2 separate regions of the Homo sapiens genome follow, and region 2 is linked to region 1. Evidence: fine-mapped expression QTL. A gene starts in region 1. The other region holds a variant in brackets. All regions are shown on one strand. Distances are from middle to middle.

Region 1 (4,380 bases):
CTCATCCCAGGGCCGGGGGGTGGGGTTGGGGAGAAGCTGAGGCTGACACTGAGATGTAGTAAGGGGGAGAGGGAGGTGTGGTGAGCCTGGAGCGGGTGGAGCTGGTGACTTCACTCAAGTGTGGCTGACAACGCGTGGCATGCCGAATAGTGCTGGGGAATCTGCCGTCCCAGGGGAGCAAGGGGCACTGAGATGGGGGTGTCATGGGCAGAGCATTTGGCCTAGGGTGTCCCCAAGGGAACCACAAGAGGTGGCTTTTGGAGACTGGGGCATCTTGAGAGGGTGTGCGGGTAGGTGGGGAGGTCGGCCTGGGGAGTGCTGTCCAGGTGACAGTGGTGTGGTGGCCCGGGTAGATGTGGGTGGCTGCAGATGACCTGTAGCTCTTTTCTAGGACTGCAGGGTGGGTGGGCTGGCTTGCTGGGTACTAGGGGCTCCACTCTGAGGACTGGGGGTGTTAGGAGGGAGGCTAAGAAGTGAGAGGAGGGTCTGGGGAACTGAGTGGGGGATCATCTCTAGATCCTTGCTGTTCTCCCTTGAGGTGGCCTTATGAGGGTGGAGCCCCTTCCAAATGGGGTCCGCCTCCCTTCTGTTCTCCCCCAACTCCCACCCCAGCACCGGAAACCAGAATGTCTGGTCTGGTCCCTCCCCCCAACACCAGGCCCGGTTCCTGCACCGTTGCCATGGAGATGGGAAGCAGTGGAGGGTACTGCTGACTTTGGGGGAGTGGGGATGGGCTGGGGGGTTGGGAAAGGGAAGACTAAATGTGTGTGGTGGGAGGAGAGTTCCAGGAGGTGTGGGCGAGCGAGCCTCTAACCCAGGGCCGGCGGACCCCTCCCCCACGCGCGGCAGCGCTGCGAAGCCCCCTCCCCCTCCAGGTACCCAGCCACGCCGCCCCACCTCGTCCCTGCGGAGACCCCGGCTGCCTCCTCCCTGCCCCGCCGCACAGCCCACCTCGCGATCTGGGGCCCGCAGACACTCCCCCTCGGCTGACCCTGGCTGACCCCCAGCCTCAACCCCGCTCGGAGGGGGTGGCCGGTGGGATGAAAGAAAAGCTGGCTAGGGCCCCCCGCGCGTACGGCTGCCCCAGCCCCCCCGGGCCGGCTCCGGCCCCTCCCCCTCAGGGCTCGCGGGAGGGAGCGGGCACGCTCCGCCGGGGCGGCATGAATCAAACGCTCCGCGGCTAAGAATAGCTGGCACGCAGCTGGTACCGAGACGGGCTGAGGAATCGGCGAGGGGGGTGGTGGAGGACGCGAGAGAGGGGGTGCCCTGGGAGGCTGTGGGGGGACAGGGGGCGGCTGGCGTGGCCGAGAGCGGGGCCGGGGAGAATGAATGGAGGCGGAGGGAGGCGGGGAGGGGCGGGGAGAGAGAGCCGGAGCCGAGGCTGGGAAACTGGTGGGGGAGAACCCGGCCGGGGAGAGGGGCGGGGGGCACCGGGGAGCAGGAGTCGGGGGCGGGAGCCGAGGGGGCGCGCCGGCCGGCGGTGTAGGGACTGGAGACCTGGTGGGGACGCAGGGAGCTTGGACAGGGGTGGAAAGGGACTGGAGGAGCCTGGAAGGAGAAGCGGGAGCTGGAGGGGTCGAAAGGGGCGGAGGAGGCCCGGGCCTAGACCCTCGCTGGAGGGGAGTGGGGACCAGGGTGACCTGGCGGAGGGGCCCAGGTACGCCAGGGAGGGCGAGGCGGGGGAGTGGCCGGGCTGGGCGGGGAGGCGGGTACCAGGACCGAGCCCTTGGCCCCGGAGAGCCGGGAGGCGGGTTCGGGATAGGGGCTCTGCTGGCCGGGGGTGGGGGGCGCGCCCTCCCATCAAGGATGCGATCTGGGACGGGGCACCGGGGACCCGGGCGTAACCCAATTTGGTGTCGCCCAGGGCAACGCTCCCCACCTCACCCGTACCCCCAGCCGCACACCCAGGCCAGGAGCCCGGCGCCGGGCCAAGGACATCCGGGGCGCCCTCGCCCCCTCCCGCGGCCCCGGCCCCGCAGCTGCCCCAAACCCCCAGGTTCTCGACCCCCTTACCTGCCTGGCGGGGCTGCTGAGTCCCGGTCGGCGGCGCCCGCGGCCCCTCCCCCCTCCCCCCACCCCCCACCCCCCCGGAGACGGGGACCCTCAGGCCATGCCCCACCGCCCCGGAGGGCGAGCGGGCCCGGGGAGGGGGCGGGCGGGGACCGGGGGGGAGGGCGGGAGGGCCGAGGACCTCACCCCCCCCGCGGGCCGGGCCTGGCCATCCGCAGAGCGCCCCCCCTTCCGCCGCGGCCGCCGCGCCCCTCCTCGCCCGCCCCCGGCTCGGTCCGGCCGGCTCCGGGCGCCGCGTCTCCGCCTGCTCTTCCTCCTCCTCTTCCTCGGGCCGCCGCCGCCGCCGCCCGCTCCGCGCCTCCTCTGCCACCCTTCTCGCTCTCTCGCTCTCGCTGTCTCTCCCTCACCCTGTCTCTCTCCCTCCCTCTCTCCCTCCCTCCCCTCCCTCCGCCCTCTCCCCTCCCTCCGGGAGCCGGCGGAGGAGACATCGCCCCTCCCCGCGCCCCCAAACCTCGCCCATCCCCCACCACCGCCGGCTCCGCCCCCTACCCTTGCCCTCCCCCACCACTCCTCCCCACCTCCGAGTCCCCAAATCCTGACTCCGCCCCTGCTTGCTCCCATACCCCGAGGAAGGGGTCCTGCCCCCATAAGGTGCCCCCCCACACACACCTCAGGACCACCCCCTCCCAGAGAGCTCCCCGCCGCCCTACACAGAGTGGGGCACAATAAATATTTGTTGCCAGACTCTACACCCCCAAATTTAAGTGTGAAGGCTATAGATTCCCACCCTGTCCCCCCAAACACACACACACCCTTTCCATTTAAGCACTGGGTCAGGGCACACGTGGACATACCTGGGCCAGGCCACATTTCCCCAAGGCACAGGTGCATAGTCACCAGCTGTAACGGCACCTGCAGAGTCCCCACATACACACACTCTCCAGCGCATGCATGCCCAGACACAATGCACCTGGGGTACACAGCTACAAACACACCCAGCTACATGCAGTTGTCACACCCCTGTGCCCGGGCACACACGCAGCACATGCACACATTTGCCCACCACACACGCACGTGCGCGCGCACACACGCACACAGGCGTTCACCCCGGTATGCATGCCCAGATCTCTCAACACCAAAACGGAGTTACAGCACTGTAGAGACGTGTGCACGCCTTCCCATCACACCCACCCACCGTGCTGTCCATTGCACTGGCTCGCACTCACCCGTTTACATGCCCAACACCGTGCCATCCTTCCCCTCCAGGATAGTTACTGCTGACATTCCTGGAGCACTTTCTGTGTGCCAGGCTCAGGGACTTTCGCCATCCCCATTTTCCAGAGGGGGAAACCAAGGAACAGAGAGGCTAAGTAACTTGCCCAAGGTCATCCAGCTGTAAGGAGGTGGTAACAAGGATCAGGAACAGGTAGGCTGGCTCCAAAGTCCTCACTTGACAACTATGGTGCACTACTGGGCATATCCCCTCATAGTTGCATATCCTTATTCATCACACACAGACACACCCAACCGTCTCCTCAGAGTTTGCACATGTCTGTGTAGGCACGCATATGCAGCCAGCTGCAGGCAGACAGCTCATTCATGCCTGGGACGCACCCACAGGGACAGAGCAGATCCCACAGGGCAGCAGTGAGTGGTGAGTGTCCCCTTAGCCCAGGCTTCCTCATTCTCCCAGCTCCAACAGCACCTCCAGGGCCTGCAGGGGGCAGTTCTAGGCAGCTTCTGGGTTCCCCTCCAGCTGCAGGCTCTCCGGGGTACCCGAGTATGAGCTGGAGGAGGTGCCTGCTCAGCCTGGGGAGGCCTCTATCTTGATGCGTACCCACTAGCCCAGGTGGTGAGCAGCTGGGCCCGGGGAAAGCACAGCTGCCCATGTTGGCTCCAGCAGCCAGAGAGGCTGTGCACCCCTGCACACTTTACAAGGCCTTTCCCCACATACGCATTATTTCTTGAGGTCTGTAGCTCCTGGTGAGGGGCCCCAGGTTCCCGATGGGCACCTGAGAGGCCCAGGCTCTGAGGCAGGGAGCAGTCTGCCCAAGGTCACAGTGCCCTCGATGTACCAGGATTTCTTGGAAAACGGAAGGCTGGAGGCACTGATTTCCAAGGCCCCTCCTGGGGCTCCCGGCAGCCGAGGGCAGATGCCCTGCTCTTGGAGCCAGAAACCTTGGCTAGCTGCCGCCACACTGGTGACCTCCAGCAGGCTATGCTGTTTCAGAGCCTCGGTCTCCTCCTTTGAAGAGCAGGCCCAGTGATCCTTGGCTGGTGTGCCCCATGCTTGTTGGCACCACCAGCCAGGCCTGGGCGGGAAAAGCCCTGCATGACTCATGGGCCTGACATAGAGGGGCATGGCATGGC
Region 2 (4,380 bases), 58 kb after region 1:
GGAGGGAGCCCTCAGCATACCCACTGTGCTGCAAGGGGCACAATGCTCAGAGGTACCTCCCAAAAATGTTGAACTGTGTTAAAGTCGGCGCAGGTAGGACGTCACGATATTTTACCTATTAATTCTTCAGCCTGTATCTTCTAAGAACAAGAGCATTTTCCCTGTAAAATTATAATATTATTATCTCCCTCAAGAACTTTACCATTGGTATTATCTAATAAACAGGCCATATTCAAATTTCCTAACTGTTCCAATAATAAACTTTAGAGCAATTTTTTTTTTTGAGTCAGGTTCTTGCTTTGTTGACCAGGCGGGAGTAGAGTGGCATGGTCATAGCTCCCTGCAGCCTCGAGCAATCCTCCTGCCTCAGCCTCCCAAGTAGCTGGGACGACAGGCATGTGCCATCATGCCCTCATTAAATTTTTTTTTGTAGAGACAGAATCTTGCTATGTTGCCCAGGCTGGTCTTGAATTCCTGGCCTCAAGCAATCTTTCTGCTTCAGCCTCCCGAAGTGTTGAGATTACATGTGTGAGCCGCTGCCCTTGGCATGGAGCATTTTTTAAAAAGCAGGATCCTGCAATGATATTCTCTGCCTCTCCTTGAAAAAAAAAAAAAAAAAAAAGACTATGCATTAGGTCACAAATAAAACATAGGTTGATTCCCCAAAGCAGAGGTAATACAGGCCATATTCAAATTTAGAAATTAATAACAAAAGATGAAAAAAATGCTTCAATTGCCTTGGACATTGCAAAACACCCTTCTAAATAACATCTTGGTTCAACTGTTAATTAAAACTTAAGTTCTACTTCATTTAAAGCACACTACATATAAAAACTTACGGCCAGGCGCGGTGGCTCATACCTGTAATCCCAGCACTTTGGGAGGCTGAGGCAGGCAGATCACCTCTGGTCAGGAGTTCGAGACCAGCCTGGCCAACATGGTGAAACCCCATCTCCACTAAAAATACAAAAATTAGCCAGGTGTGGTGGTGCATGCCTGTAGTCCCAGCTACTCAGGAGGCTGAGGAAGGACAATCACTTGAACCCTGGAGGTAGAGGTTGCAGTGAGCTGAGATTGTGCCACTGCACTCCAGCCTGGGTGACAGAGCAAGACTCTGTCTCAAAAATAAATAAATAAATAAATATTTTTAAAAAATCTTATGAGATGGGGCCAAAGCTGTGCTCAGAGGAAAATCTATAGCTTATTTATTTGTTTTGTTGTTGTTGTTGTTGTTTATTTGAGACAGGGTCTCACTCTGTCACCCAGACTGGAGTATGGTGGCACCATTGCTCACTGTAGCCTCAACCTCCCAGGCTCAAGTGATCCTCCCACCTCAGCCTCCCCAGTATCTCCACCATGCCCAGCTATTTGTTTAATTAATTAATTAATTAATTAATTTATTGGTAGAGATGGGGTCTTGCTATGTTACCAAGGCTGATCTCAAATACCTGAGCTCAAGCCATCGTCCTGCCTTGGCCTCCCAAAGTGTTGAAATTACAGGCGTGAGCCACTGCACTCAGCCTTTAATTTAATTGTAATTAGAAGAGAGAGAGAGAGAGAGAGAGAGAGACAGAGAGAGAGAAAGTCCGAGAGGAAATTAGCAAAGCAAACAATTCAGGAAGAAAAAAAA[G/A]CTATAAAATAGTGCACTGAAAGTTGAAAGAAAGCGTTCATAGAGATTAGAGGGAGTTAATTTTAAGTAAAAAATTATGGACAATAGTAAGAAGCTGGTTCTTTGGAAGGAGAAATACTCTTTTCCATGTTCTGTCTCTCTCTCATGTGTGCACACAGGTACACACACACAAAACCAACAATAATATTCTTTTACGTTTGTGTTTGTGTACTTTTGTGAATGCTTCAAGAAGGCAGAAGAGCACAATGGGACACAAGTTGCTTCCACTCTCTGTGCCTCAGTTTCCACCAATGTAAAATGGGGATAATGGCAGTAGCTCCCTGAGAGGGTCCCTGTGAGGATGACTTGCGTTGCCGTGGGTGGGGCGCTTGGCTCCGTGCCTGGCACCGAGGAGGTGCGATGTGTTTGCTGTGATCAGTATCATCCTCTGTTGCATAAATTCCTCCTGGGGAACTGCCGGGTTAGAGGGAGTGTTCGATGTCGCAGACGCCGCCGCGAGCGCTCTGCAAGCCTGTTTCCCACGGCTTCGCCAACGCAGCAACCGCCAAGTCAGCCTCTTTGATCTTTGCCTTCTCAGAGGAGAAAAGTGGGATCCCGGGGAGGTTTTTAATTTGCATTGATTTTCTAATGAATGCGGTTCAGCATTCTTCCAAGGAGGCTCTGCGGTTTTTAGAGCTGGCTGCAGGATCCTCCCTGGGGAGACGTGGTCTTTGCTGGGGCAGAGCCAGGCGCGGTGGTGGAGGTGGGTTTGAGTCTCGGGGAGCGCGCGGGAGCTGGGCACGGCCCCGTGCTTGAGAGGATCTGGCATTTTCCTGGGCAGCCTCGGCGAGAGAGAGTCGTGGAAGGTGAGTTAAGCCTCCGGATTATACTCTGCCAAGCAGGGACTAAAAATTCGTATCCAACAGAATTGCTAAGACAGCTGAAGACTGCGATTCACGCCTTCATCCCTTAAATAATGACAGCTCACAGGTATTGATCGTGACCTAAGTACCAGGCCCTGTCCAGAGCTTTCTAAACATGTGAACTCCCAAAGTCAGCATCACAACCCTGAGGGCGGTGCTGCGATTATTCCCGTTGTACAGAGGAGGAAACTCGAGGCTCAGAGAGGTAAAGTCATTTACCGAAGGTCACACAGCTGGCTGGGTACGGTGGCTCACGCCTGTAATCCCAGCACTTTGGAAGGCTGAGGGGGGCGGATCACCTGAGGTCAGGAGTTCGAGACCAGCCTGGCCAAAGATGAAACCCCCGTCTCTGCTAAAAATACAAACATTAGCCGGGTGTAGTGGTGCATGCCTGTAACGCCAGCTACTCTGGAGGCTGAGGCACGAGAATTGCTTGAACCCGGGAGGCTGAGGCTGCAGTGAGTCGAGATCGTGCCACTGCACTCCAGCCTGGGCGACAGAGTGAGACTCCGTCTTAAAAAAAAAAAAGAAGAAAGTCACAAAGCAAGTAAGTGTAGGATGGGAATTTGACCGGTCTGACTCCATTAACCCATCCAGTTATGTTTACCGAGCGCCTGTCTGGTGAAGGTCACTGTTTTTGGTGTGGGAGAAAGGCAAAGAAGACAAAGATACCTACCTTTGAAGGACTAGCATTCTAGGGAGTAGCACTGACATGCCGGGGGCAGTGGCTAACATTTAAGGGCGAGGGGCTAGCATTTAGGGGGAGTGGATAACTTTAGGAGGCGGGGCTAAAATTCCAAAGGGAGAAACTGATCTTCCAGGGAAAGAAATTGACATTCAGAGGGGAGGGACTAACATCCCAGGGGGAGGAGCTAATATTCCAGGGAGGAGGAGCTAACATTTCAGGAGGAGGGGCTAATATTTTTAGTACAATTATACACTGTTAATCACTACCTCTGTTTCTAACATTTTAGGGTAATTGCATGCTCTTAATCACTACCTCTGATTCTCTCAGGCAATAAAGGAGGGGCCAACCTTTATGAGGGAGGGGGTAATATGCCAAGGGGAGGAACTGACAATCCATGGGAAGAAATGGACATTCTAGGGGGAGGAGCTAACAACGAGGAGGGGCTAACATCGCAGGAGAAAAATTGACATTTAAGAGGGGAGAAGCTAACATCGCAGGAGAGAAATTGACATTTCAGAAGGGAGGAGCTAACATCATAGGAAAGAAATTGACATTTCAGGGGGAGGAGCTAACATTGCAGGGGAGAAATTGACATACAGGAGGAGGGGCTAACATTCAAATAAGGGTGCTAACATTCAGTGGGAGAGGCTAACATTGCAGGGGAGAAACTGACATTTCAGGGCAGGGCTGACACTCTCCATCCTTCAGATTCTACAGCCTCTGCCTCCTTGCTATACCCTGTCCCTACAAGTATTGGCTGAGCTCATAGTAGGTGCAAATCTCTGCCACCCTGGGGATTTGAACATGCCTGAATAGAATGGAGTCTGCCCTCATAGAGCTCGCAGCCTGGGGGCAGACAGTTCTGAACGGAATGATTACACAGAAAGACATTCACCTCCCAGGCAGGAGAGGTAATCACGCGCTCTTAATCACTACCTCCGTTTCTCTCAGGCAATACGGGAGGGGAGGCGGCACCCCCATCGTGGCCTGGTTTGAGATGTTCCCAGCCGTAGGAGACAGACTGTCATCAAGTGTCGGAAAATAGCTGTCATGGGAATCCTCACCTCCTGACACCTTCCCAGCCCCGTGCTCCCGAAACCCTCCCCGCGTGGCTGCAGAGTTGTAGGTTCTGCTCCTGGTGACGGGCAACCCCGTAATCT

Which allele goes with the higher level. Alleles are on the strand shown, and positions count from the first base shown. SD is a standard deviation of normalised expression in the study named.
In carriers of allele G in region 2, the expression in skin of the gene that starts at base 2,410 in region 1 tends to be lower than with A alone (moderate effect, 0.44 SD a copy in TwinsUK).

Evidence for each region. PIP is the estimated chance that this variant, and not a neighbour inherited with it, causes the effect.
Region 2: its variant is the best candidate, but not a certain one, in a credible set for the expression of SHANK1 in skin (TwinsUK, PIP 0.75).

What each region holds. Positions count from the first base shown.
Region 1 is chr19:50,717,393-50,721,772 of GRCh38, forward strand. It overlaps SHANK1 (SH3 and multiple ankyrin repeat domains 1), which reads right to left and starts at 2,410. Exons shown (of 24, transcript NM_016148.5): 1 at 2,014-2,410.
Region 2 is chr19:50,775,869-50,780,248 of GRCh38, forward strand. No RefSeq gene overlaps it. Among named protein-coding and RNA genes, the nearest start is that of GPR32, 7.6 kb to the left of the region's middle. RefSeq lists an enhancer at 1,745-2,569. The variant G/A (reference allele first, on the strand shown) is at 1,631.